Linked DNA regions of Homo sapiens. The protein of the gene in region 1 purifies or fractionates together with the protein of each later gene. This does not show direct contact. Each region holds a gene or a part of one and is shown in the gene's direction. Other genes may lie near its edges.

Region 1 (2,956 bases):
AAATTTTGGCAGCATGATCAGAACATTAGATGGCTTATCATTATCAGACTTTATATCTGATTATAAAGATTAGGAATTTCTACTTCAGGAAAGGAATGAATGGGATTGAAAAGGATTGAAATCTTCAAAATAATGAATATCTGAAAGCTCTTGCATTATTTTGAAGCTTATTTTTTCTATAAATCTTAGCAATTGAAACTAACAGTTGCTGGGTATGGCAACTCATGCCTGTAATTCCAGCACTTTGGGAGGTCGAGGCGGGTGGATCATCTGAGGTCAGGAGTTTGAGCCCAGCCTGGCCAACGTGGCAAAACCCCATCTGTACTAAAAATAACAAAAATTAATTTGATGTGGTGGCAGGTGCCTGTAATCCTAGCAACTCCGGAGGCTGGGCAGGAGAATCACTTGAACCCAGGAGGCGGAAGTTGCGGTGAACCGAGATCGCACCATTGCATTCCAGCCTGGGCAACAAGAGCAAAACTCCGTCTCAAACAAACAAACAAACAAAAAACAAAAAAAAACAACTAAAGGACACTACCTGATTTATTATTTTGGGGCAAGTACATGTTTTGTTTTTATATTACTGGGAATGATTATGTAGACTTTGTTATTCTAAGAGTTTAGAAATATAAATAACTTTAAAAAATACTTTGTAAATTATAGAAGGTATTTTATTTTATCTTATTTATTTATTTATTTATTTGAGATGGAGTTTCGCTCTTATTGTCCAGGTTGGAGTGCAATGATGCAACCTTGGCTCATTGCAACCTCTGCCTCCCGGGTCCAAACTATTCTTCTCTACTCCCGAGTAGCTGGGATTACAGGCACCCGCCACCATACCTGGCTAATTTTTTGTGTTTTTAGTAGAGACGGGATTTCACCCTGTTGGTCAGGCTGGTCTTGAACTCCTGACCTCAGGTGATCCACCTGCCTCGGCCTCCCTAAGTGCTGGGATTACAGGCGTGAGCCACCATGCCCGGCCAGAAGGTATTTTAAATTTATAGGTGAAGCTAAAGTTGTTTGGGTTACCTTATATGACCTTTTTAAGGTTGGGATTGGATTCTTTTCCAACAGAACACTTGATTATCATTAGAAATAGTTCAGCATTGTCCCCAGCTCATGAAAGGGTTGTGTCGAGAAGATGAGGCACATGTTTCCCATGAAAATGATGCAGAAACTTCAGCAGGTAGAGGGCAAGTAGTTGGTTGAGGCCTGAAGGATGACATACAAGGTCAGAGACTTGGGTTGTGGAAAGTATAATGGAGGCTACAAGAGTTGATGAAAGGAGCAGTGACGGTTTTGTCTTCCTCTTCTCTTTTAATGTTTGCTTAGGTGTAAGAAACAGGGAGGGTGATTAGGTGGAGAGGAGTGGATAGCAGAAGCAGAAAGGCAGGATTTTTCCTTCGCCTTTGTTACTGTCTTTTTGACAGCAGATTAAGATCTGTATCAGAAAGGGAAGAAATCCCTAACAGCACTGGGAAGGGAAAGGGACTTCTTAAGGTTCGTAGGAAGCCCTCGGTGTTATAAGTCTGCAGAATATGTGTCAGTAAGGGACAGATATTCTCTGTGCTAAAAGTTGGTCACATATGAAGAACGGCCTTAATACAAAAAAGTGGTGGTGGGTGCCTGTAATTCCAGCTGCTTGGGAGGCTGAGGCAGGAGAATTGCTTGAACCTGGGAGGCAGAGGTTGCAGTGAGCTGAGATCACGCCATTGCACTCCAGCCTAGGCGACAGAACAAGACTCTGTCTCAGAAAAAAAAAAAAAAGAAAAGAAAAATGGCCTTAAGTGAATTGCCATTGCTGACTTGGCTGGGCCATTAGTCTGACTCCATATGAGATTTTTGAGTTCTTCAGCTCTGCTTCTTGGTTCTAAATACCACTGCCCAGCTGCATACGGTGGTTCACACCTATAATCCCAGCACTTTGAGAGGCTGAGGCAGGTAGATTGCTTGAGACCAGGAGTTTGAGACCAGGCTGGGCAACATAGTGAGACCCCCATCTCTACAAAAATATAAAAATAAGCCACACATGGTAGCCCAGCTACTCAGGAAGCTGAGGTGGGAGGATCCTTTGAGCCTAGGAGGTGGAGGCTACAGTGAGCTATGATCACACCACTCCACTCCAGCCTGGGAGACAGAGCGAGACCCTGTCTCAAAAAAAAATTACCACTGCCACTGTGTCATAATTTAGAAGGATTCATGTTCTCTGCCTCCAAGCAGAAAAGCCGGTTACCTACTATCAAGACTGCATTTAAGGGATATATTAGGAACTTCTAAGCCGGAAAACCAATGTATTTGAAATGACAATTTATTTCTGCCTGAACCTACACTGTCTAGGAATCTGTTCCTGGAATCCTCAGGGTATACAGATTTCTTCTCAAATCAGAGCTGTAAAAACTACCCATTCACCATTTGGGAAACACCTTTCTTCCACTTCTTATTGGAAGCCCTGGTGGTCATGTTGATCCTCTGCTATGTTTTTCTCCCAAAGCCAAATAATCCTCTTTACAGACTTGGGGTTTCATGGACTTCCTCATCACCCTTAGGTGATTGCATACTCGGAACATCGTTACCGTATCTTTGGGGAAACCATCGATATTGCAGTGGGTAATTGTCTGGATCGTTTTGCTCGAGTGCTGAAGGTAAGCCAGTGGGGCTGCAGAGAACATAAAATGTGGGTGAATTTTTGGGAAGCCATGGAGGTGGAGGGAGGAAATAGTAAATGAGCTTCTTATGCTTCCTGCATATCTGATTTCATCCTCTTCCATTCCCTCCTTCCTTATTTTTTTCTTCTGCTAGATTTCTAACGACCCAAGTCCAGGATACAACATTGAACAGATGGCAAAGCGGTAAGGGGACATAAGGTGGAAGCAGGCTGGCTGCTGGGGCTTCAGGGATTTCCCCATATACGGTATATATTAACAAAATTTGGGACGGGCTTTGGAGGGTGAGAAGC
Region 2 (3,500 bases), on another chromosome or scaffold:
CGCCTCCCAAAGTGCTGGGATTACAGGCATGAGCCACCATGCCCACCCGGGAAGGATGTCTTTAGGGTTGTTATCTTGCTGTGGGGAGAGTCCCCAAAGCAGTCTTGTCCAGTTTTTGGCAGGGTTGTCGTCTGGTTGCCGGGACTCTGGGAGCTGTGTGAAGAAAGCCAAGGGTGAACAGCAGAAGCTTGGACTTGTTCAAGCTCGTTCTCCGGGATTCACTATTTCTGGTCCAGTTCTTACACCTGAAGCAGAACAACTGAATGATCAGGGCTATAGACAAAGTAATAGCGGCAGGTTGAACTAATTTAAAAGAATCAGTGTTTTTTGTTGAGGGAGATTGGTTCTGCTGACCTGAAAGCTGCAGGTTATTACCCTGATGAACTGAGAAGGCTCCTAGAAGGTGGTTAGAGCGATGACCTTGTCTCCACCTGGGATGAAAGCGGCTTGGGCCTTAAAGTGTTGCTGGATCAAATTCTTGCAGCCAAGGCTGATGAGCACAAGCAAGGAGGCTTCTTTTTTGTTGTTGTTTTGAGACAGGGTCTTGCTCTGTCACCCAGGCTGCGGTGCAGTGGCACAGTCACAGCTCACTGCAGCCTGGAACTCCTCGGCTCAAGTGATCCTCCTGCCTCAGCCTCCCAAGTAGCTGGGACTACAGACATGAGCTACCACCATGGCTGGCTAACTTTTAATTTTAGTGTAGAGATGGGGTCTCACTCTGTTGCCCAGGCTGGGCTTGAACTCTGGGCTCAAGCGATTCTTCTGTCTGGGCCTCCCAAAGTGTTAGGATCACAGGCATGAGCCGTGCCCAACCATATAAGAAGGCTTCAGACAAAGGAAGGAGTGAGTCACTAACACGCTGATGATAAAGCAGAAAATAACAGTGCTCCCCACAACCCCCAAAGTCCCAGGGCTGTGGGACTCCTAGAGAAGCGTCTCAAATGGCTCCAGAGTCAGAAGGTGGATGGCGTTCTGTTCTCCAGCTGTGAAGCTTTCGAGCTCTAGCAAGGACTAGCAAGCCAGAGGAAGCACCCGGAAGTAGGTGGCTAAACTGCGGAAAATTGCCCTAGGCCAGCGTTTCTCTAACTTCAGTGCACATCAGCATCCCCAGCAGGACTTGCTTACACTTTGATTGCTGGACCCATCCCCAGAGTTTAATTTAGTAGGTCTGTAGTGAGGCTTGAGAATTTGCATTACCAGCAAGTTGCCAGGTGAGGCTGCTGCAGTGGCTGCTGCGGCAGCTGGTCCCATACTTTTAGAAGCGCTGGTTAAGGAAGTGATGACTGCATTGAAAGCTCTGGATTCAGCCCGCACCAGCTTCAAACCCAACTCTAGTCATGTGATTTGGGATAAGTCACATAACCTCTCTGTTCCTTAGTTTTCTCATCTGTAGAATGAAGCTAAGAGCGACTAACTCCTGGGGTTCAGGGGAGGCTTCATGAAGGAGGTGATATCTAAGCTGAGACCTGAGGGATGAGCAGTCAAGTTGGCCAGGGGATGAGTAGGGAGGACAGGCTGGGGTGTGTACCAGACAGAGGGCATAGCATGTTCAGAGCCCGAGGAGGAAGGAGTGCCTGCCTTCTAGGGAGCTGGGAGGAGTTATGTAGCAAGTGCTTTGTAAGTGATACTGAAATGCTACCAATCTGTTCTGGGCAGGATCACAGTGGAGAGGAAGCCAACCAGGGTATGGAAAATGGGCTGCTGGACGGGCTCAGAAATGGTACAAGTTATTTGTGCTCTTTCATTGGCCAGAATGCAGTCACATGACCTTACCTAGCTGCAAGGGATGCTGGGAAATGTCCGTGGCCAGGCAGGGGAGAAAGGATTCCTGGAGGAAAGCCAGCTCTCTGTGCCACCTGTGGTTTTCAGGCCCCCTCTCTCACTTCTTCTCCACCTTGCTCACTTTGCTCCACTCTGTTGAGTAGATGAATTTTACAGATGAAGAAGCTGAGGTTCAGAAGGTTAAGTAATTTCCCCCAGCATTCCTCAGCTGACTGTGGCAGGGCCAGGACTTGAATTCATCCCAAAGGCCTTGTTTGGCTAGATCTGGTTTTGGTGCTTATCAGGTCCTCCATGAGCCAGTCTTTCCCACTACGACCTCAGCCATGTCATTGGACTAAGTAACTCCTATGTAGTTACAACACAGTAGGTTGTTTTGTTTGTTTTTGTTTGTTTGTTTTTTCGGAGGTCTGGGGGCGGGGGGATAGAGTCTTGCCCTGCTGCCCAGGCTGGAGTGCAGTGGCACAATCTTGGCTTACTGCAACCTCTGTCTCCTTGGTTCAAGTGATTCTCATGCTTCAGCCTCTCAAGTAGCTGGGACTATACAGGTCGTGTGCCACCACACCTGGCTAATTTTTGTATTTTTGGTAGAGATGGGGTTTCTCCATGTTGCCCAGGCTGGTCTCGAACTCCTGGCCTCAAGTGATCTGCCTGCCTCGGTCTCCCAAAGTGCTGGGATTACAGGGGTCAACCACCGTGCCCAGCCACAACCCAAAAGTCCTTCTGTTTCTCCATTATATCAGCAGGAAACTGCCAGCTTTTCTTCACTTACTCGTTCATTCATGCAGCATGCACTTGTGCATTTATGGTGTGTGCCAGGCATTGTGCTTTGGGCTGGGAGCTGCAGAGGAACAAGACACACGGCCCCTTTTGTTCAAGACACTCACATGGTCTGGCCACCGAGAGGGCTGGGCACACAGTTCATGTGAGAAGTGAGACGTGCTGTATCCCTGAGCTGACCCACCAGGAGTAGAGTGTACCGTGGACATGCAGAGAGTGCCCAGCAAGTGATTAAACATTACAGTTCAAGCTCCCTTGTGCATTTTGCTAATCAAAGCTATAATTATATTTTGTGTTTCATATTCCAAAATGCATTTTTCAGATTCCTGAAACAATAAAATAGCCCTTGCATGATGACAGTTTTATATGCAGAAAACACAGTGTACTGCAATGATATTTTTACGAGCCTTTAGCAGAGCAAATGATGACGTATCTCTGGCTTCTGCAGCAGGTTGCTGTTTACATCGGTAAGTTGATTTCTCTGTCTCTTTCTTTTTTTTTTTTTGAGACAGAGTCTTGCTGTGTCACCCAGGCTGGAGTGCAGTGGCACGATCTTGGCTCACTGCAACCTCCGCCTCCCAGGTTCAAGCAATTCTTCTGCCTTGGCCTCCTAAAGTAGCTGGGATTACAGGTACACACCACCACACCCAGCTGGTTTTTGTATTTTTAGTAGAGATGGGGTTTTCACCATGTTGGTCAGGTCTCAAACTCCTGACCTCGTGATCCGCCTGCCTCGGCCTCCCAAAGTGCTGGGATTACAGTCGTGAGCCACCGCACCTGGCCTTCTCTGTCTCTTTATGGTATGTGGGGAGATTTGTTTTTAAAAGGAAAAGGGGAAGAGAGGGTTGGGGAGGGCTCCTTAAAATTACACCAGAGGCTGGACACAGTGGCTCACACCTGTAATTCCAACACTTTGGGAGGCTGTGGCTGGAGGATCACTT
Region 3 (3,500 bases), on another chromosome or scaffold:
CTTGGGAGGCTAAGGTGGGAGGATCACCTGAGCCTGGGGAGGTTGAGGCTGTGGTAAGCAATAATGGCACCACTGCACTCCAGCTTGGGTGACAGAGTGAGACCCCATCTCAAAAAAAAAAAAAAAAAAGAGTGTAAACATTTAATATTTCAGATATTTGAGTAATAAGTTAGTAAGTTATGGTAAATGAACTTCATAAGAAATTGCAACAAATTTTTACTGAGCATTTCTAGCATCTGTTTTTAACTTTGTTATACTTTTTGATGCTTTTAGTGGATTTTCCAGAGATCTGTTTGGTTTTTTGTTAGAGTCCTCACCTTGGTTTCATCTCTGATATTTTCTTTTTCTTTTTTTTTTAATTTAAAACTCATATATTTTTAAGCCTTTGTTTTAAAACATCTCATGTTGGCCAGGTGTGGTGGCTCATGCCTGTAATCCCAACACTTTGGGAGGCCGAGATGGGTGAATTACTTGAGGTCAGGAGTTTGAGACCAGCTTGGCCAACATGGTGAAACCCCATCTCTACTAAAAATACAAAAATTAGCCAGGCGTGGTGGCAGGTGCCTGTAATCCCAGCTACTCAGGAGGCTGAGGCAGGAGAATCGCTTGAACCTGGGAGGCAGAGGTTGTAGTGAGCTGAGATCATGCCACTGCGCTCTAGCCTGGGCAGTAGAGCGAGACTCAGTCTCAAAAAAATAATCTCGTGTTAATTTTGCTGCTGCTTTTTTTTGTCTCTCCATAATTAAAACTTAACGTATTGTAGCAAATATCTACTTCTGATACTAGTTTTTTTAATTGAATTTATCAACATATGTAGAAATTAGTATTATTTAACCTCTTGACTAGCTGTTCTCTAAAAATAAGTCTAAATGCTAGGACATCCTTACTTATTATATATAGAAAATGTGACTTTCAAATGTGGGTCATCTTAAGTATGCTCTCATTGGAGACAAGACTTGTGAGTATTATGCTTCATGTGTGATGGTGTAGTTTTCCAGTATACTTTAAGATTGAAAATGTTGCTCAGGAGACAATTTTAAAGGATGGGTTATTTGCCTATATCTTAATTTTTTATAACTCTACAAATTCTCATTCACCTTGGTGAGGCATATGTAGAAACAGTTTAAATTCTTATTCAGGCATATGTAGATAGAAGTTTGTGCTATTTATTAGTTGGTGTATGTATGCATTATTATAGAGTAATAAAGAATCATTTTATTTTTTGCTTCTTTCATTATGCTTTATAGTACTTACATTTATCATTTTGATATTTAGTGCAAAGAAATGTGCTGCATGCATTGAGCATTTTTCTACAAGTTTTTTTCCCCCTGATGTGCTATTTCACATATCACAGGCCTTATTTTTTGAACAATTGAGCAAAAGAAACAGATGAAACCTCATACAAAACCCTCCAAAATATGAAAATGTGGGGTTTATTTGTGCTAATGCTCTTCTTTTGGAAACATTTGTGTTAAAGGTAAGGTCAATTTATTGATTTAAACCACATTGTATGTAAAAATGTATTATCCATGATTAAACTTTCTAAGACATTGTTCTTGATAGAAAAGATTTTCTAACTTGTGGAATAAAAAGATTTATTTTGCAAGTGTCAGAAATATTAAAATTAATTATTCCCAAGTTTTCTTAAATATTATGCAAAACTTTGATCTACAGCTTTGACATAATTTTCTAGGATCTTATGGTTGGTGATGAGGCAAGTGAATTACGATCAATGTTAGAAGTTAACTACCCTATGGAAAATGGCATAGTACGAAATTGGGATGACATGAAACACCTGTGGGACTACACATTTGGACCAGAGAAACTTAATATAGATACCAGAAATTGTAAAATCTTACTCACAGAACCTCCTATGAACCCAACCAAAAACAGAGAGAAGATTGTAGAGGTGAGTTTTTATGCAGGATATGCATATGTGTATTTCTGTGATATTATGTTAAATCAAAAATTTTCTTACTGTTGCTATGGATAAAGAGAATAAAAATAATTGTTTTCCTTCAGATCTTATTAAGTATCTACTATATGCTAGTCATTATTCTAAGTAGGAAAGTAGGATAGATCAGTAAACAAAAAATCCTACTGCCATGGAGTGTATATATTCTAACAGGGAAAAACAGACCAAAAAAATTAAGTTTTTAATTTAGTGAGTTAATTAAGTTAATTAAGTTTTTATGGAGGAGCCAGCAGAAGGAGACTGAAAAGGCTAATACAATAAGCAGTTACAGAGTTAATTAAATGGTTTGTTAGAAGGTGAGTGATCCAGTTGACCCATGAGCAATGCAGGGGTTAGGGGCACCAACCCTCCCTACTCACGTGCAAACTTAACTACCACCCAAAATACTTAACTTCTAATAGCCTACTGTTGACCAGAAGCCTTACTGATAACATAATATGTATTATATACTATATTCTTAACAATAAAGTAAGCTAGAGGAAATACTGTTAAGAAAATCATGGCCGGGCGCGGTGGCTCACGCCTGTAATCTCAGCACTTTGGGAGGCGGAGGCGGGCAGATCACAAGGTCAGGAGATCGAGACCATCCTGGCTAACACAGTGAAACTCCGTCTCTACTAAAAATACAAAAAATTAGCCGGGCGTGGTGGCGGGTGCCTGTAGTCCCAGCTACTCAGGAGGCTGAGGCAGGAGAATGACGTGAACCCTTGAGGCAGAGCTTGCAGTGAGTGGAGATCGTGCCACTGCACTCCAGCCTGGGCGACAGAGCGAGACTCCGTCTCAAAAAAAAATAAAAAATCATAAGAGAAAATACATTTACTATACCTTAAGTGGATGTAGATCATCATAAAGATCTTCATCGTCATTGTCTTCACACCGACGAAGAAGAGGAGGGGTTGGTCTTGCTGTCTCGGGTGGCAGAGACAGAAGAGGTGCAAGGGGAGGCAGGAAAGATTTATTGACAAAAATCGTGTATAAGTGGACCTGTGTGGTTCAAACTTGTTGTTATTCATGGATCAGCTGTAGATGCTAAAGGCAAAATAAATCAGGTTAACGGGGAGTGGGAGGTTGTAATTGTACATAGGTTGTGAGAAGGTGATGTTTAAACAGACAGGGTAAGTGAGTTAGCCAGGGTATATAGGAGAATGGTATTCCAGATAAAGGGAGTAGCCAGTGTAAAGGTCTTAAGTTAGGAACAAGCTTGGTATATTAAAGAATAAGCAAGGAAGCCAGTGTGGTTGAGGAGAGAGCAACAGAAGATGAGGTCGAGTAAGTAATATTGGTGCCTTGTAGGCTCTAATTAGGAATTGGGCGGCTGGAAGTGGTGGTTCAGGCCTGTAATCCCAGCACTTCTGGGAGGCCGAGGTGGGCGGATCACGAGGTCAAGAGTTCGAGACCAGCCTGACCAACATAGTGAAACGCCATCTCTACTAAAAATACAAAAATTAACTGGGCATAGTGGTGCGTGCCTGTAATCCCAGCTACTTGGGAGGCTGGGGCAGGAGAATCGCTTGAACCCAGGAGG
Region 4 (4,122 bases), on another chromosome or scaffold:
AAGGGTGACTAATGCAAAGTTAGGGATAAAGCTAGAGACCAATAGGGAGCAAAGGGAGCATAGTGGGGGGTGGGGAGGGGGCTGGAAGCAGGAAAGGCTTTCAGAGAAGATGATGTTTGAATGGAATGTTATAAGTTAATTCAGGATTAGGCAGGAGAAAAAGTATTTAGAAAAAAAAATCCAGGAGAAGGAGATAACAAGCAAAGGCTAGGAAGCAAGAATTTAGTGTGTGTAGATAGCAATGCGTGGGACATAGAGTCGTCAGATGAGGCTGGAGATAAATTGAAGTCACACTCTGTGAAAGATCTTCATCCATTCTGAAAGCTGATCATACGAATTGGGTCATTCTTGTCATATCCAACTAAGACAGAATTGAAAAGCCAGGGGAACAAATACTCAGGGCATATAACATTGCTCCAAAAAAGTAATTTTTTGCAAGCCTGGCTGCTAAAACTGCCTGCTGTAACCTAAAACCAGTTTTATCTAATAGCTACTGAAACAGCCTGCTACAATTCTGAGTTTTATCCACCACTATCACTTACCAATCAAAGCTTGCCAGCTCCCCAAGAAGCTGATAAACCCCCACTTTACTAGTGCCTGTAAACTTCCTTGAAGAGCAATATGTAACATTTCTGTTTTATAAAAATCTCCAAACCTTCTCTTTGTTCTTCTGACATACCAAAGACAACCTGGTCTGTGTGTAAGCCCTGAATTGCAATTCTTGATTGCCAAATAAAATATTTAAACTTTAGAGATTCATCTCTATATGTTGACTTTGACACCATCAATCCACCTGTGCATTAATTTATTAAATAAATATCTATAGAGCACTAGGTACCAGGTACTTTCTAGCCTTGGAACCTTTGCACTTACCATCCCTCTGGCTGGAACAGCATTCCCTAAATCTTGTCTGGTCTCAGCTCAACTATTACCCCCTGAGAAAGGCCTTCCTTCATCCCCTTATTTAAAATAGCCCACACGTGGTCACTTTCCATTGCATTATCCTGTTTTGTTTTCCTTACAGCACTAATCACATGAAATGAGAGTCTTCGTTTGCTTATCAGTTAATTGCCTGTGGGGACCCCACTAGGACATAATCTCCCTGATAGCGGGGCCAGCCTCCTTCCCTGCGTCATCCACGGCGTTCTAGCAACTCAGGGAGCCCAGAGCATGCTGCCGCCCCGCGTGCAAGGGAGCCTAAGTTCCAAACCGAGCACGCGCAGAGGGCGGGACGCTCCGGGCCTCCAGGTCTCGCAGGCCCCGCCCCCTCGCCGCGGGTTCGCTGTTGGGCGGAGATATTCGCCGCCGGCGCTTGCGCCCGGAAGGTGTGCCGCACCACACGGGGGAGGAAGGAAGGAGCTCCCAACTCGCCGGCCTGGCCACGGGATGGCCCCCAAATTCCCAGACTCTGTGGAGGAGCTCCGCGCCGCCGGCAATGAGAGTTTCCGCAACGGCCAGTACGCCGAGGCCTCCGCGCTCTACGGCCGCGCGCTGCGGGTGCTGCAGGCGCAAGGTACGACCCCGGCCCCCATCTCACCTCCGGGCCTGCTCCTCCAACTCCCGCAACCACCGCCCGGGCCTCGCGCGGCGGCCAGCAGTCCTGCCCGGCCCTCCCACCCTTCCAGCCCCTTCCGACTCCGGCATCCTACCAGAAACTTCCTCGGCCCTTTCTTTCCACCTGCTTGTTAACTGCCCTGTTGGCCCCCATCCTAAGTTATTTAGGCCTCGTTCTGAGCCCTGAGAAGAAAGCTAAACCCTCCTCCCCCGCAGCAATTCATTTTTCAGTTAGTATTTGTTGAGTAGCTGTTATATACCGCCTGTGTAACAAGACACAAAAAGTCCCTTCTCTCAAGGACAGCGCATTCTTGTGGGGGCGGTGGGGAGGACGTGAGTCTTAAGCGAGTCAGTAAGTAAACGAGACCTGTGGGATAATCAGGGTTAGGAAGAAGACAAATAGGGTGATGTGATAGAGTTGACTGGAGTGGGAGATCAAGGGCAACATCTGTAAAGAAGTGATATTTGAGGTGATGTCTAAATGATGAGAAGCCAAGCGCACAAGGTTTTCGGTCCTGAAGTGAACTGCAATGAGAAAGGCCCCCCCTCCAAGACGATATAAACATGGTGTGTTTCAGGGGTCAAAGCATAGTGAGCCAGGGCAGGGAATAGGAAGACATGAGGTCAGTTAGGAAGGCAGACCCTTATTTATTGTGGAGGTGTTGTAAACTCTGCTAAGGAGTTCGGATTTCATGCCAAACTGGAAGCTTGGCATGAAAGCTGCTGGATGGGAAGCTACTGGAGAGTTTGAAACAGAAGAATAGCATATTCTTACCAGTTCTCCCAGCGTCCAGCTTTCGTCAGCATACCGCAGACCTTTGCCCAAAGCCCCTTCTCCAGGGTGACTTAATCAGAAACCCTCATTGGTTAAAGCCTTGACTTTTGAAAGGAGCCTTGGATCCTGGTTTCTGTGAGTCACCGTTCAGTACCTATTTCCCTTTGCCGCCTTCCTTTTTTTCCTTTTCTTGGCTAGCATCTCTTGAGTGATTTACCATGTGCTAGACATTTTAGACACGATCTCCTTTGATCTTTATTATGGCCCTGTGGATAAAATGCTTAGAAAGGAGGAGTCCAAGAGAGTTAAATTGGCTCCCTCGGGGTTACATAGTGAAGACATGGAAGAGCCACGATTTGAATATGGATCTGTTTGACTTTGATGCTAAGTCCAAATTTTTAATCATTTTGCTAGACCTCTCCTCACATCCTCTCCAGATTTCATTCTTTTTTTTTTTTTTTTTGTCTGCACTTTTTGCAGTTTCAAGCCACTCCTTTGCCCCCTTCTTTGTTCTAGAAAACTCTCCTTTAGGCCCACTTCCTCATGGCAGCCTTACTTGATGAAGTTGCTGAAGAAGCTGAGGTATTGATGTTGCTGCCATTTTCATTCATCTCACCCCAGCTGGTCTGGAAAAGCTTGTACATTTGTATGGGTTAATTCTGGGTCCATAGAAAAGCTAGCCTGGTATCTAGATTTAGCAAGGACCGGAGTTTGGTTCTGCTGCTGCTACAGATTTCCTAGGTAATTTTGGGCAAGTCTCTTGATTTATCTGATCAGTCTTCTTGATCACGAAGAGAGCTCAGGGAACAGGCTAACACAATGAACCCTTCCAGCAAGTCTATGAAGTGATATCCTCATGTGGTAGGTGGGCACGCATGATCAGAGGGATGGAGTGACTTGTCCGGATCGCAGGGTTGATGCCCTTTCCACCGCACCACTGCTGTTTCTGAGCAACCGTACTCTGGTGACTCAAGATGGATTACAGGTTTTGGGTACTTAGCTCCTTAAGGGCAAGGATGTATTTTACTAGTCTTTGTACTTTCCGTCTCTGGGCCTGGCAAAACAAGAGGGGAAAACGCTTGTTATTGTTGGTATTGAATGAAAGATATCAAATATCAACATGGCAACAGGATACTGAGTGAAAAAAGTAAGTTGCAGAAGGATAGGCAATATGATGCCTCTTAGGAAATGCTTTAATAGACATAAAATGGTATCTTTCCTGTTAACACACACACACACACACACATATATATACATATACATATATATACATGTACATGTATACATATATACATATACATATATACATATATATGTAAATGTAGAACATGCTTGAAAATGTTACATACCAACTTCAGGATTGTACTGGCCTCTGTGAGTCTGGGGAGGGAGCACAGGGATAAGGATGGGGATGGCTGGAGTTTTAGCTTATCAAAAAAATTTTTAAGGGTTGGGTGCCATAGCTCATGCCTATAATCCCAACACTTTGGGAGGCCAAAGCGGGAGGATCACTTGAGGCTAGGCATTCAAGACCAACCTGGGCAACACAGTGGGACTCTGTCTCTACAAAAACTTTAAAAATTAACTGGGCTTGGGGGTACACACCTGTAGTCCTATCTGCTTGGTAGGCTGAGCTGGGAAGATCACTTGAGCCCAAGAGTTTGAGGCTGCAGTGAGCTATGATTGTGCTACTACACTTCAGCCTGGGCAACAGAGGGAGACGCTGTCTCTAAAAATTAAAAAAGTTGGGAACTAATATAACGTGCTAAATCTAGTGGTGGATTCTGAGATAA
Region 5 (3,500 bases), on another chromosome or scaffold:
GTCTGAAAGCCATTTGTGTATTCTTCACAGACACTTGATTCTGTATGGGGGAGTTGTATCTTTCAAAGGGGTTAGATTCTAAACATGAAAGTCCTTAGCAGTCAGATTTATCAAACTCTTAGAAACCCCTTACCTCACTCAAAATACACCACAGGCACCACTCCCTCTGGCTTTAGATCTCTTTCTTGGGTTGAGCTTCAGAAAGTAGTGGTTGGAATTGTATCACAGGTGTATTGAATCAACTTAGCCAAAAACGAAAGAAAATAAGTCCTTAGTGCAGGTTGCCATTCTCAAACATGACCCTGGGGAGTCAGCATCCATGGGAGACAATAAACTGCTTCCTCTGCAGGACACAGGGGCATTCCTTCTGGGGTGGATGAGCTGAGAGATTCTGGTGTATAAAGATCCTCCCCTTTCATGGGGGAAATCAAACTACTCATCCAAGGGATTTTTTGGTCTCACTCACTTAATGGTGATAACCATTCTGTCTTCCTGCTTTCTGCTGGGACTGGGTGACAGAGCAGGAGTAGCGTCATCTCGGACAAACACTGGCACATTAAGTTCCAGCTCCCTTTCTAGCCTCATGCATTTCAAGGAAGTCACTTCTCTTCTAACTACAAGCAGCCAGAAAGAGCAGACAGTAAAACACAGACAAGACAGCTGGGACACAGAGGGAGGTGGGGGGAAAGTCTCTTGGGTGACTGCCAAACTTCACCCTCATACAATGGGCCCCAGTAAAACTGTGGGCCTTAATAAGCACATTCCTTTCCCTTCAGGTGTACTAAGATAGGGAAGCTAAAAGCAGTCTTGGGGGGATATGCCTGCAGCTGCAGAAAGATGTATGGAAACAGACACACCAGTCTGCCTCCCAGATAAGCACAACAAAGAGACACAGAAGCAGTCCAAGCCACTGATAAGCTCTCCCACCCTGAATCCTTAAAAACTCTTAGTCTGTAAGAGAGTGTGGCTCTGACCTAACTCAGCCAGCAGCCCCTCTCAGGTTTGTTTAAAATAAACCTGTCCCTGTTGACTGAAAAGCCACCCTTCGTGTTTCTCTCCTCTTTAATTCTTACACTTGGGTCTTCAAGCCCTAATCCAGAGTTGTTTCTCCATTCATTTTTTTCAACAAATATTGAACACCCACTTTGTCCTTGGTACTATTCTGGGCTCTCAGGATACTGCAATGAACAGAATAGACAAAAATCACTGCCTCTGAGGAGCTGACATTCCAGTGGGGGCATCAAGTGGTAAACATACATAGTATGTTGGGTGACGAAAAGCACTTTGGAGAAAGATAAAGCGGGATAAGGGAGATGGGCAGTGGTCAGGGACGGTGGCATCTGAGCAGGAGGTGAAAGCAGGGAGAAATCGCTGTGAGGGTACCTGAGGGAAGGGAAGGTGCTCCTGGAGGACAGAACACCCTGTGCAAAGGCCAGAGGTAGGCATGTGCTCAGCACATTCAAGTAAAAGCAGAGGCCAGCGTGGCTGGAGTGCAGGGAGTGATGGTGGGAGATGGGGTCGAAGAGGTGAGGGATGCAGCTCTTTCTGGATGTATTTGAAGATCGAGCCATTCCAATTTGCTGTTGGAGATGTGAGAGAAAGACGGGTTGGGGTGGCTCTACCGAGAGTAAAACTAAACAGCTGGGGGTGGAAGGTGTCTTTGTATCTGACTGCTCACTCAGTTCTGTTCTCAGCCCCACCCTGAAGTCCTGCACTCAGAGTAACCCCTCGGGCCTCCAGTTCCCCACTCTGACCAAGGTTCTGGGGTGGGGACTGAGTTGATTCTGGATGACCTCCTCCTTGTGCACTTTGAGTTCAGCTTTCTTCACTGGTTAAGTCAGAGAGCACTCGACCATCAGCTCTCCCATTTCCAAAACATTATTGACATCTCTGAGCCTGTGATTGTCTCTTTTCCTGGCCATGCTATCCTTGATGCCCTTTAAAAATTGCTGTCAAGTGGGATTCCAGCTGACAGCAGAAACTCATTTCACCTCCCCAACCACGTGAGGTAGGTAGGTGGAGCTGGTGGTAAGGCCTGGTTTCTGAGGCCCAGATGGTACCTGAGCTCATACAGTGGGAAGTGCTTAAGCCCAGATTTGAACTCCAGTTCTCAGACTCTCTGTGATATTGAAATATTGAAGCCACTGTGCACCAGAGGGTTTAAGGTAGTTTTCCACCTCCTTCAGAACATGCATATTCAACTGCTTTTAAAGCTTATCTTAGAAATAAAAACACAAGCACTTTTAAATTTTATTTCTCTAGAGAAATTGCTGACAAATGTCATGAGAACTACTAGTCTAGCTGATTGTCCCACTAGTTGGCATCTTACGACTAGTCTGACCAGTCCTTTCTTTCACAGTTAGGTCTGTTAGGAATAGGTAAGCCTTGTCCTTGCATCAGTCCTTGAATCGACTTTTAAAAGTTCCAGAAAGCAAAGGCCCTCTAGGACAGGCATACAATGGACAGTTTGTAGGGGACATACTCCAGATCTTTCAGACCAGAGTTCCTGTTCCTGTTCTGCCTTCATTTACTGCATGTCTTTTGGTCTGTTTCTCAGATCCTGTGGTCTCTGTAAAATGGAGATAAAGTAATACCCACCAGTGAACTCACAGATGTAATAAAACACATTGCATGGGACAAAAATGTGTAAAAGATACAGCTGTTACTGTTCTACTTTCGATCCAGTGTGAACTGTGCTGCAAGGGAAAATGTCCAGGAAGGCACATGTGAGGACCTGGCCCAGTGGGAGGGACCTGGAATTCTCAGTGGGATTGTGCTAGGCTGGTGTTTCCTAACCTGGCTGTGTATCACAGTCACCTGTGAAGCCCGTGAGCTACATGGACATGGCAGAGAGCTCGATTCAGCTTTTCTTGGGTGAGGCCTGGTCTCTCTATGTATGGCAAACCCCAGGAGGGCCTCATACTTTACCACGTTTGGACCCTTTGCTTTCTGTGCCTGTGACTGGGCCTCCCCGTTGGGCTGCGCTGAGCTGCCATCTCGGTAAACAAAACTGCCAGAGCTGAGTTGCGAAATTTGCATCAGCTCATTCTGCTTAGCGTTCAACATTTTTACAGATTGCTTTTGAGTATTTTGGAAACTGGCCAGAATAGTAGAATCAAGGTTACTAGGTACTTTAACAAGTCCTGGCTGCCTGGTCCAAAAGCTTTCCCCAGTCAGCCACAGGGGAAAAGCAGCCTTCTGTTGGATGACATGCAAGGTATTGAGGCAGAGGCCAGCTCTGGGAGCAAAAGCCTCCAGTGGGTTGGGGGTCCTGGCCCCGTGTGCTGAGGGTTTTTTGTTGTTACTCTGTTCTAGTGTAAGAGACCCTGTGCAGTGTGGGCATGGCGTAAGGCACCAAAGTGCCCTCCCTCTGTCCCCTGAACTGTCCTTCTCACTGGAGATGTCGCTCGGTTTTTGTTGTCACTGCCCCCTTCCTTCCAGAAGCCTCTTCCTTAATTACTTCAGCCCAAGCATGGGCCCAAACCTTTTTCCTTGCTTTC
Region 6 (3,500 bases), on another chromosome or scaffold:
CATTTTTATGAAAACATTCAGATTCTTTTGCTATCAACTTTCAGCAAGAGAATGGGTCTGCCTGTTTGTCTCTCCTTTCATACCTGTTTGCCTCTAGGAAGTTACTGGAAAGAAAAATGTTGTTTATGAGACATAATAGCATTAATTTTGGCAGAAATTACAGCTTAGACAGGGCCTCAAAAGCATTTTCCATGTGGCTGTGGACCTCCCAGGAGGCTTGAACCTTACCTGGGAGAGCCCAGCTATCGACAGCACTTGAGGCTGTTGCTGATATCACTTTGCCCTTTGTCTGTCCATTTCTCCTTCTCCCACCTCCTTTTATTGTTTGGGTTTTTTGTTCTTTTCTTTTTCTGCCTAAGTCTTAGCATTTCTATTAATATTTAAAGACTTTTTTTTTTGTTTTTTTTTTTTTTTTGAGACAGAGTCTCGCTCTGTCACCCGTGCTGGAGTGCAGTGGTGTGATCTTGGCTTGCTGCAACCTCCGCCTCCCAGGTTCAAGTGATTTTCCTGCCTCAGCCTCCCAAGTGGCTAGGATTACAAGCATGAGCCACCATGCCTGGCTAATTTTTGTACTTTTAGTAAAGATGGGGTTTTACTATGTTGACCAGGCTGGTCTCGAGCTCCTGACCTAAAGTGATCTGTCTGCCTCGGCCTCCCACAGTGCTGGGATTACAGGCGTGAGCCGCTGCGCCTGGCCTTAAAGACTGTTTTAACCTACTGGTGAAGTTATGATAGTTTTACTGATTTATACCATATACTCAAAACTAATAGACTTCCATCCTCACCTCCCCAAGAAACAAAATGACTACCTTGTTAACAGCAGTGGCTTTACAACAATTTAATAAAATTATTGGTTCACTCTTTCCGAAGAAAATGTCTGAAATAAAGTAAATTTGAAATGTTTCTTTGAATGGTCAATTCACTGTCAGTTTTTGTTTTAATTGTAGGTGAAGTTAAAATGAACTATTTGGGCAAACCATATGTAGCCATGGTTACAACATACCAAATGGCAGTTCTTCTTGCCTTTAACAACAGTGAAACTGTCAGTTATAAAGAGCTTCAGGACAGCACTCAGATGAATGAAAAGGAACTGACAAAAACAATCAAATCATTACTTGATGTGAAAATGATTAACCATGATTCAGAAAAGGTATGTAGTAATATTCCAAAGAATTTAAGCATCATCAGCATTAAAGCTTTTTCATGAGATGTTTGCAGTTTTAAAATAAGGCTGTAATTGTTATTGTGCTCTGGAAAGCACTTGTATTCACTACGTTACTGTACGCTCCATAGAGCTGCGAGCGTTAAGGCATCACAGAGCATGCTGTGTGAGTTGGTGCCATGTGCCGTTTATAGTTTGATTTTATTTGTCCTATACTGTTACAGCTTATTGAATAATTGTAAAAGAATTGCCATCTGGAAGATTTTGATTAATTGAGATTTTGAAACTAGCCTTTAAAGACTTTCCAGGTTTTTGGTTTTATAAATGTGCTTAATTTCATGGTTCTATAACAGGAAATGACAGCCTGTTGATGTCTGTTTGTACACATATTTAATATGTGTAACTCCATTCCAAGTGTTCTTAATGTCAGCACTCAATTAACTGTCATCTGTTTTTAACCACCATATATTTTTAATATCTGTCACAAGAATAACAAGCCATTAGTATATTACTTTTTTTCTCTGTAACTTTTTTTCTAGTTACAAGATTTTGCTGTTTTGTTGTCATAGTATATCCTAGATGTTTAAATAGTTAAAAATGCAACAGAGGTGGGATTATATCTCCTTCAAATTATTGTGCTTATAAGAAAAAATTCCTATAAATAATGTTTTGTTTTTATTTTTGTAAAGTTAATAGCCTACAGTTTATTTCTCTCATTAATTCATTTTGCTGACATCCCTAGGATTATGATGACATTTTATAGTCTATAACTGAACAACTGTAAAAGGCATATTCTGAAATTCAAATCAATGTTTTCATAATTTTGAGAAATGATTTATCTGGCATCAGAATCTTAGCAAAATATGGATTTTTTTTTTTTTTTTTTGAGACGGAGTTCCACTCTTGTTGCCCAGGGTGGAGTGCAATGGCGTGATCTTGGCTCACTGCAACCTCCACCTCCTGGGTTCAAATGATTCTCCTGTCTCAGCCTCCTGAGTAGCTGGGACTACAGGCACGTGCCACCATGCCCAGCTAATTTTGTATTTTTAGTAGAGATAGGGTTTCACAATGTTGGCCAGGCTGGTCAGGCTGGTCTCGAACTCCTGACCTCAGGTGATCCACCTGTCTTTCCCAAAGTTCTGGGATTACAGGCGTGAGCCACTGTGCCTGGCCAAAATAGGGATTTCTTAAGGTTAATTAATTATGGTTTCTAATTTTAGGCTAGTAAATTCTTAAAGGTTTTATATTTTTTTCTAAAACATGCTATTTTTGCTGCCCAGAAATTGACAAAGTAAACATAGATTCCTTGTTTGCACTTTAAATTTTATTTTATGTTTATTTATTTTTGAGATGAGATCTTGCTGTGCCACCCAGGTTGGAGTGCAGTGGTGCCATCTCAGCTCACTGCAATCCCCACCTCCTGGGCTCAAGTGATAATCCTGCCTCAGCCTTCCAAGTAGCTGGGACCACAGGTGTAAGCCACTATGCCAGGCTAATTTTTTAATTTTTAGTAGAGACCGGGTTTTGCTTTGTTGGCCAGGCTGGTCTCAAACTCCTGAGCTCAAGTAATCTGCCCACCTCAGCCTCCCAAAGTGGTGGGATTACAGACGTGAGCCACCATGCCTGGCCTTTAAATTTAATTATGAATCTGTCCATTCCTTAGCAGAATGTCTTAGATTATTATTGAGAATTATTTCATCTTCCAAGTGCCTTTTGATTCTGCTGCCAGAGAAATTCCACTCTATGATATCAGTGGCTTTCTTAAGCCTGATACAGAAGTTGTTATTCTAAAAATTGCCTAAACAGTTTTCCCCTGAGCAAAGGCCACTTGCTTCTTGAAGAGTGAATAAAACATGGATTGAAATAAATGTTTTCACCATCACCCCAGGTCACAGCAAATTGATGCTGTGTGCTACTGGAGGCACAGCTTTCTCTTGTCATCAGGCCATTTACAGTGGGTATTTTGTTACTGCGGCATTTGTAAAAAAAAATGTGGTTGCTTTTTCAAAATGGGGTGATGGAAAAGTTACGCACTTTGGTGTTTCATAAAAATTAAAATGTCAAACTCTAGGCAATGAGCTTGACTCTTATTTTATCAAAAAGTAGTGTATATAGAATAGTAGGACCAGAAAATAGCTTATTCCCAAACATAAACTGCTTAAGATTCTGGCAGATGTAAAAGTAGAAAATAATTGGGTTTTTTCCTGTTTGTTTGAACAAAAGAATTATTTTTCTCTTAAATTTGGTAATCTATAATATAAAAGTTATGAGAGTGGAGGCTTTTTTGCTTGGTCATTAATTTAGCAGAATTGCTTGCAGCAAACTCTTATTTAAAGAT
Region 7 (3,500 bases), about 76 Mb from region 1:
GAAATGATGGATATACAAGTCTGGAGGTCGGGGGAAAGGTCTGTGTGTGAGTCATTAGCTCAAAAATGAATTTTTAATATTGAGAAGTGTTGATCTTGACTAGTAGGATTTCTTTTTTATGGTGTGGTTCTGTCTAAGTGTACAGTACACTTTTATCATTTGGAAGCTGATTTTTCTCTTTTATAGGAAAGCCAGATCTTATTTCTTTCTTCTTTCTTTGGCCTCTTTTTGGTGTGTTTTATTTCTCATTTACACGAAGAATATAGCTATCTGCTATAGAGCTAATGGCTTTGATGGCAAAAACATATTGGCTATGATATTCATTGTATTTAAGGACATTTTACTTTCTAATCTTTATTCTAGATCCCTTTGTATTTTTTTATAACTTTAATACTATAATAGTTATTTTTATGAGTATTTACATTTTAAGTTGTCTTGTTTCTCACAATTACAAAAAGTGTGTTTTACATTGTATCTCAAAATACTTTTTAAATTTCAGTTATCTGACAATTCCTGAGTTCAAAAGCATACTTTTCATTGAAGTGATTGAAAAAAATAGGTATCTTAACAAGATGTGTATTTGCATTCTAACTTTACTATAACCATGAATTATTTTTTTTAGAGGTTAGAGAGAAATATATTGAAAGTTATAAAATGATTGTGTTATTCTTTTAGGTGAAATTGCCAAATACATGGAAACAGTGAAATTACTAGACTACACTGAAAAACCTCTTTATGAAAATTTACGTGACATTCTTTTGCAAGGACTAAAAGCTATAGGAAGTAAGGATGATGGCAAATTGGACCTCAGTGTTGTGGAGAATGGAGGTTTGAAAGCAAAAACAATAACAAAGGTGAATTTTGTTATTAAATTATTCTTTGGTCTTCTTGTGTTTATAATTGCAATAAATACTAAAAGAAAGTATAGCAGTAGTTCAATGAAGAACAATAACAGATTGCATGGCAATTAAGGCAAACATTTTTTGTAATACAGAAAATGTGTAGAGGGTTGTAGAAAAATAAATATTTATATATTTCTTATGTTTAGTAGCAAGTTACTAAATTCCTGAACTGATTTTAACTTGGAATACTGATATCTGACAGGGAAATTTTGATGGTGCACTGAATTCATAATTTATATGTTCTTTTCTCCCAAGTCACCACTTAGGGTTCATCTTGTCTTGGTTGTTTCTTATTTGTGGATATGGTCAGAGTATTTACCAGTTGAAAACGGGCATTTGAAAAATTACCATTTGAAAATTTCCTTGTTTGTTGGTGTGGTGCATTTTACCATTTGAACATTATTTTGCTCTGTGAAGAAATATTATATAAAGCTATATATCAGCATATAAGGGGATTAATTGTTTGGAGAGAAATGTTAAATAATGAACTTTATGGTAGAAGTATTATACAAGCATGTAAAGAACTTCTGGCATCACTTTAGATTTTACAGGTATGCATTAACTTACTGATTTGCTATTGATTATTTTTGATAATTAACTTACTGATAAACTTACTGATTTCCCTTATAATCTGAAATTATTTAATACAATGTGTTAGCTATTTTTATATGAGGAAGGAAAACAACTTTTAGAAGAAAAATTTTTTTTACATTATTAACCATTTTTACTGTCATTAACTTTGCAAATTCTAATAGATTTATTTGGAAATCTCGTATTCCAAACTGAGAAAAAGCGTTAAAACAAATTTTTCTCTCTTTAAAATCAGACGCAGCACATTGAAAAGTTTTTATCTTTTCAATTAACAAAGGAGATAGGAATTTTGAAATTGGACCAAAAATTTAACTTTGCCAAATAGCAGGTCTCTGTAATTTCATCATAGAATCTGAAATTATATACATGCATCTACATATACTTTTTTTTCTTTGATAAGTTTTATCTTAATTGCATCTGCTCCAGTTTTGTGGTCAACAAGTGTGCTGAAAACTGTATCTGTTTGAAATGAAGAGGGTAAAATGGAAGCCTGAGTGGAATTTTTTAGTAAGGTATTATAGTAAACTTACTCTTTGCATACATGCATAAACAAGCAGCATGTTTCTTATTGCTCAGGATAGATTTCTCTGCGTTAATATTTATAGGTAGCTTGTATAGTGTTTTTCTCTAAAATTTTGGTGATTGAGAAGTAAAGATCTCTGCTGCTATGTGAGAACTTGTCCAGAGCAACCACCTCCCTCCGCCCAACCCCCATCCCCCTGTCCCCGCCCCTACCTTCCTTTGCAAATCCCTTTGTTGTTTGGACTTACATGCTGGAGAAAATGTAGTTTCTGCAGGTTGGCTGACTTTACAGCTGAGTAGGTCAGTCTGCTGCAGAGCTAACATCTGTGACCTTATAATTCTGTGGTGTCCTTGGATAGTTCAGAAGGCTGGAAATTTCCTGTTGGATCATCCCTGACATGTATAAAGCTTCATTTAGGGGAAAAAAATGAATACTAAGTTGAACAAGTTGAACTATTAGGAGATTTATTTCATTAGTTTACTACTTTTTGTACACTCATTGCTGACACAGGGTTATTCTTTGTATTAAAAAGAAATTAATAAAAGTTAAGGTTAGGTAAGATCATGAGCTGCTTGATAGCCATGTAACTGAAGTGAGTTATTAATTTTGTTAGCTTTTTTTTTTTTTGTAAAGTGAAAGAACTGGACCAGACCAGTTTTTTTTCAAGCTTTTCTTTTAAACTGCAGAACATTTTCTTCATATAATTTGTAAATGCTGTCACTGAAAACAGATAAAAGCAGAGCTCTGCTGGATGAGAAGTTGGGGGCTCCCTGCAATGAAAAGCTTTCTCCTTTGAGAAACTAGCTTGCTGCCTCTGTTTTTCAGCAAGATCTATAACCCAGATGTCTTTTTTTGCTCTGGATGTCAGGAGGCTCAAAACTAAATATGATGCTTAGTTCTAGAAACTGTTAATTTTAATAATTAGTACATTTGTTTCCTCTCTTTTCGTTTGTCATAATTTTTGAAAGTGTGAAGTATATTTTCTGTGTATATATCAGACTCAGATCTCTTTTGGAAAGGGGTAGGTTTAATCAGTTTAATATATGTTTGTATTTAGGTTCCTAAGAAATATTCTTTTTGGTAAAAACCTACAGGAATTGATGAACAGTGGAATGAAGCAAGGTTTCTTGTCTATGTTTTTGCAGCCATGCTTGATTATGGTGCAGTATATTTGGAAACTAGAGTGAAACATGAATTTACCCACTTGGAAATGTTTTCTGCTTAATAATCAAGGAGCTTTATTTAAAGCATAGAATTTTGGGATGACATAAGGCTGAAGGAGAACAGAGAGATCAAGTATACATCTGCCCTTAAAAAGTACAAAGTCAAATATTTTTATTGTTGATTAGAACTAAACATTTTCAGTTTTTAGAATCTGGCAGTACAGTGCAACAGTTATTGGATTCAGTGTATACTCATAAATTAACATTCAACAATTACATAAAAAGTCTAGTTTATGTACCTGATCTAGGCTAGGTCTCTAG

What was found.
Region 2: the proteins of OSGEP (region 1) and EEF2K fractionate together in Homo sapiens (co-fractionation; one large-scale study listed by BioGRID). This does not show direct contact.
Region 3: the proteins of OSGEP (region 1) and ACTR2 fractionate together in Homo sapiens (co-fractionation; one large-scale study listed by BioGRID). This does not show direct contact.
Region 4: the proteins of OSGEP (region 1) and TOMM34 purify together in Homo sapiens (affinity purification with mass spectrometry; one large-scale study listed by BioGRID and IntAct). This does not show direct contact.
Region 5: the proteins of OSGEP (region 1) and CHCHD4 purify together in Homo sapiens (co-immunoprecipitation; one large-scale study listed by IntAct). This does not show direct contact.
Region 6: the proteins of OSGEP (region 1) and CUL2 purify together in Homo sapiens (affinity purification with western blotting; 2 studies listed by BioGRID, with this or other methods). This does not show direct contact.
Region 7: the proteins of OSGEP (region 1) and VRK1 purify together in Homo sapiens (affinity purification with mass spectrometry; one large-scale study listed by BioGRID and IntAct). This does not show direct contact.

The regions. Positions count from the first base shown.
Region 1 is NC_000014.9:20,448,857-20,451,812, reverse strand, and holds part of OSGEP (tRNA N6-adenosine threonylcarbamoyltransferase), read left to right. Parts: intron 1-2,546; coding exon 2,547-2,642; intron 2,643-2,799; coding exon 2,800-2,849; intron 2,850-2,956. UniProt on the Homo sapiens protein: Component of the EKC/KEOPS complex that is required for the formation of a threonylcarbamoyl group on adenosine at position 37 (t(6)A37) in tRNAs that read codons beginning with adenine.
Region 2 is NC_000016.10:22,209,278-22,212,777, forward strand, and holds part of EEF2K (eukaryotic elongation factor 2 kinase), read left to right. Parts: intron 1-3,500. UniProt on the Homo sapiens protein: Threonine kinase that regulates protein synthesis by controlling the rate of peptide chain elongation.
Region 3 is NC_000002.12:65,244,831-65,248,330, forward strand, and holds part of ACTR2 (actin-related protein 2), read left to right. Parts: intron 1-1,693; coding exon 1,694-1,909; intron 1,910-3,500. UniProt on the Homo sapiens protein: ATP-binding component of the Arp2/3 complex, a multiprotein complex that mediates actin polymerization upon stimulation by nucleation-promoting factor (NPF).
Region 4 is NC_000020.11:44,957,598-44,961,719, reverse strand, and holds the start of TOMM34 (mitochondrial import receptor subunit TOM34), read left to right. Parts: upstream 1-1,322; 5' UTR 1,323-1,386; coding exon 1,387-1,513; intron 1,514-2,182; exon of another isoform or gene 2,183-3,383; intron 3,384-3,412; exon of another isoform or gene 3,413-3,427; coding exon of another isoform or gene 3,428-3,476; intron 3,477-4,122. UniProt on the Homo sapiens protein: Plays a role in the import of cytosolically synthesized preproteins into mitochondria. Binds the mature portion of precursor proteins. Interacts with cellular components, and possesses weak ATPase activity.
Region 5 is NC_000003.12:14,118,371-14,121,870, reverse strand, and holds part of CHCHD4 (mitochondrial intermembrane space import and assembly protein 40), read left to right. Parts: intron 1-3,500.
Region 6 is NC_000010.11:35,013,842-35,017,341, reverse strand, and holds part of CUL2 (cullin-2), read left to right. Parts: intron 1-947; coding exon 948-1,150; intron 1,151-3,500.
Region 7 is NC_000014.9:96,859,882-96,863,381, forward strand, and holds part of VRK1 (serine/threonine-protein kinase VRK1), read left to right. Parts: intron 1-675; coding exon 676-854; intron 855-3,500. UniProt on the Homo sapiens protein: Serine/threonine kinase involved in the regulation of key cellular processes including the cell cycle, nuclear condensation, transcription regulation, and DNA damage response.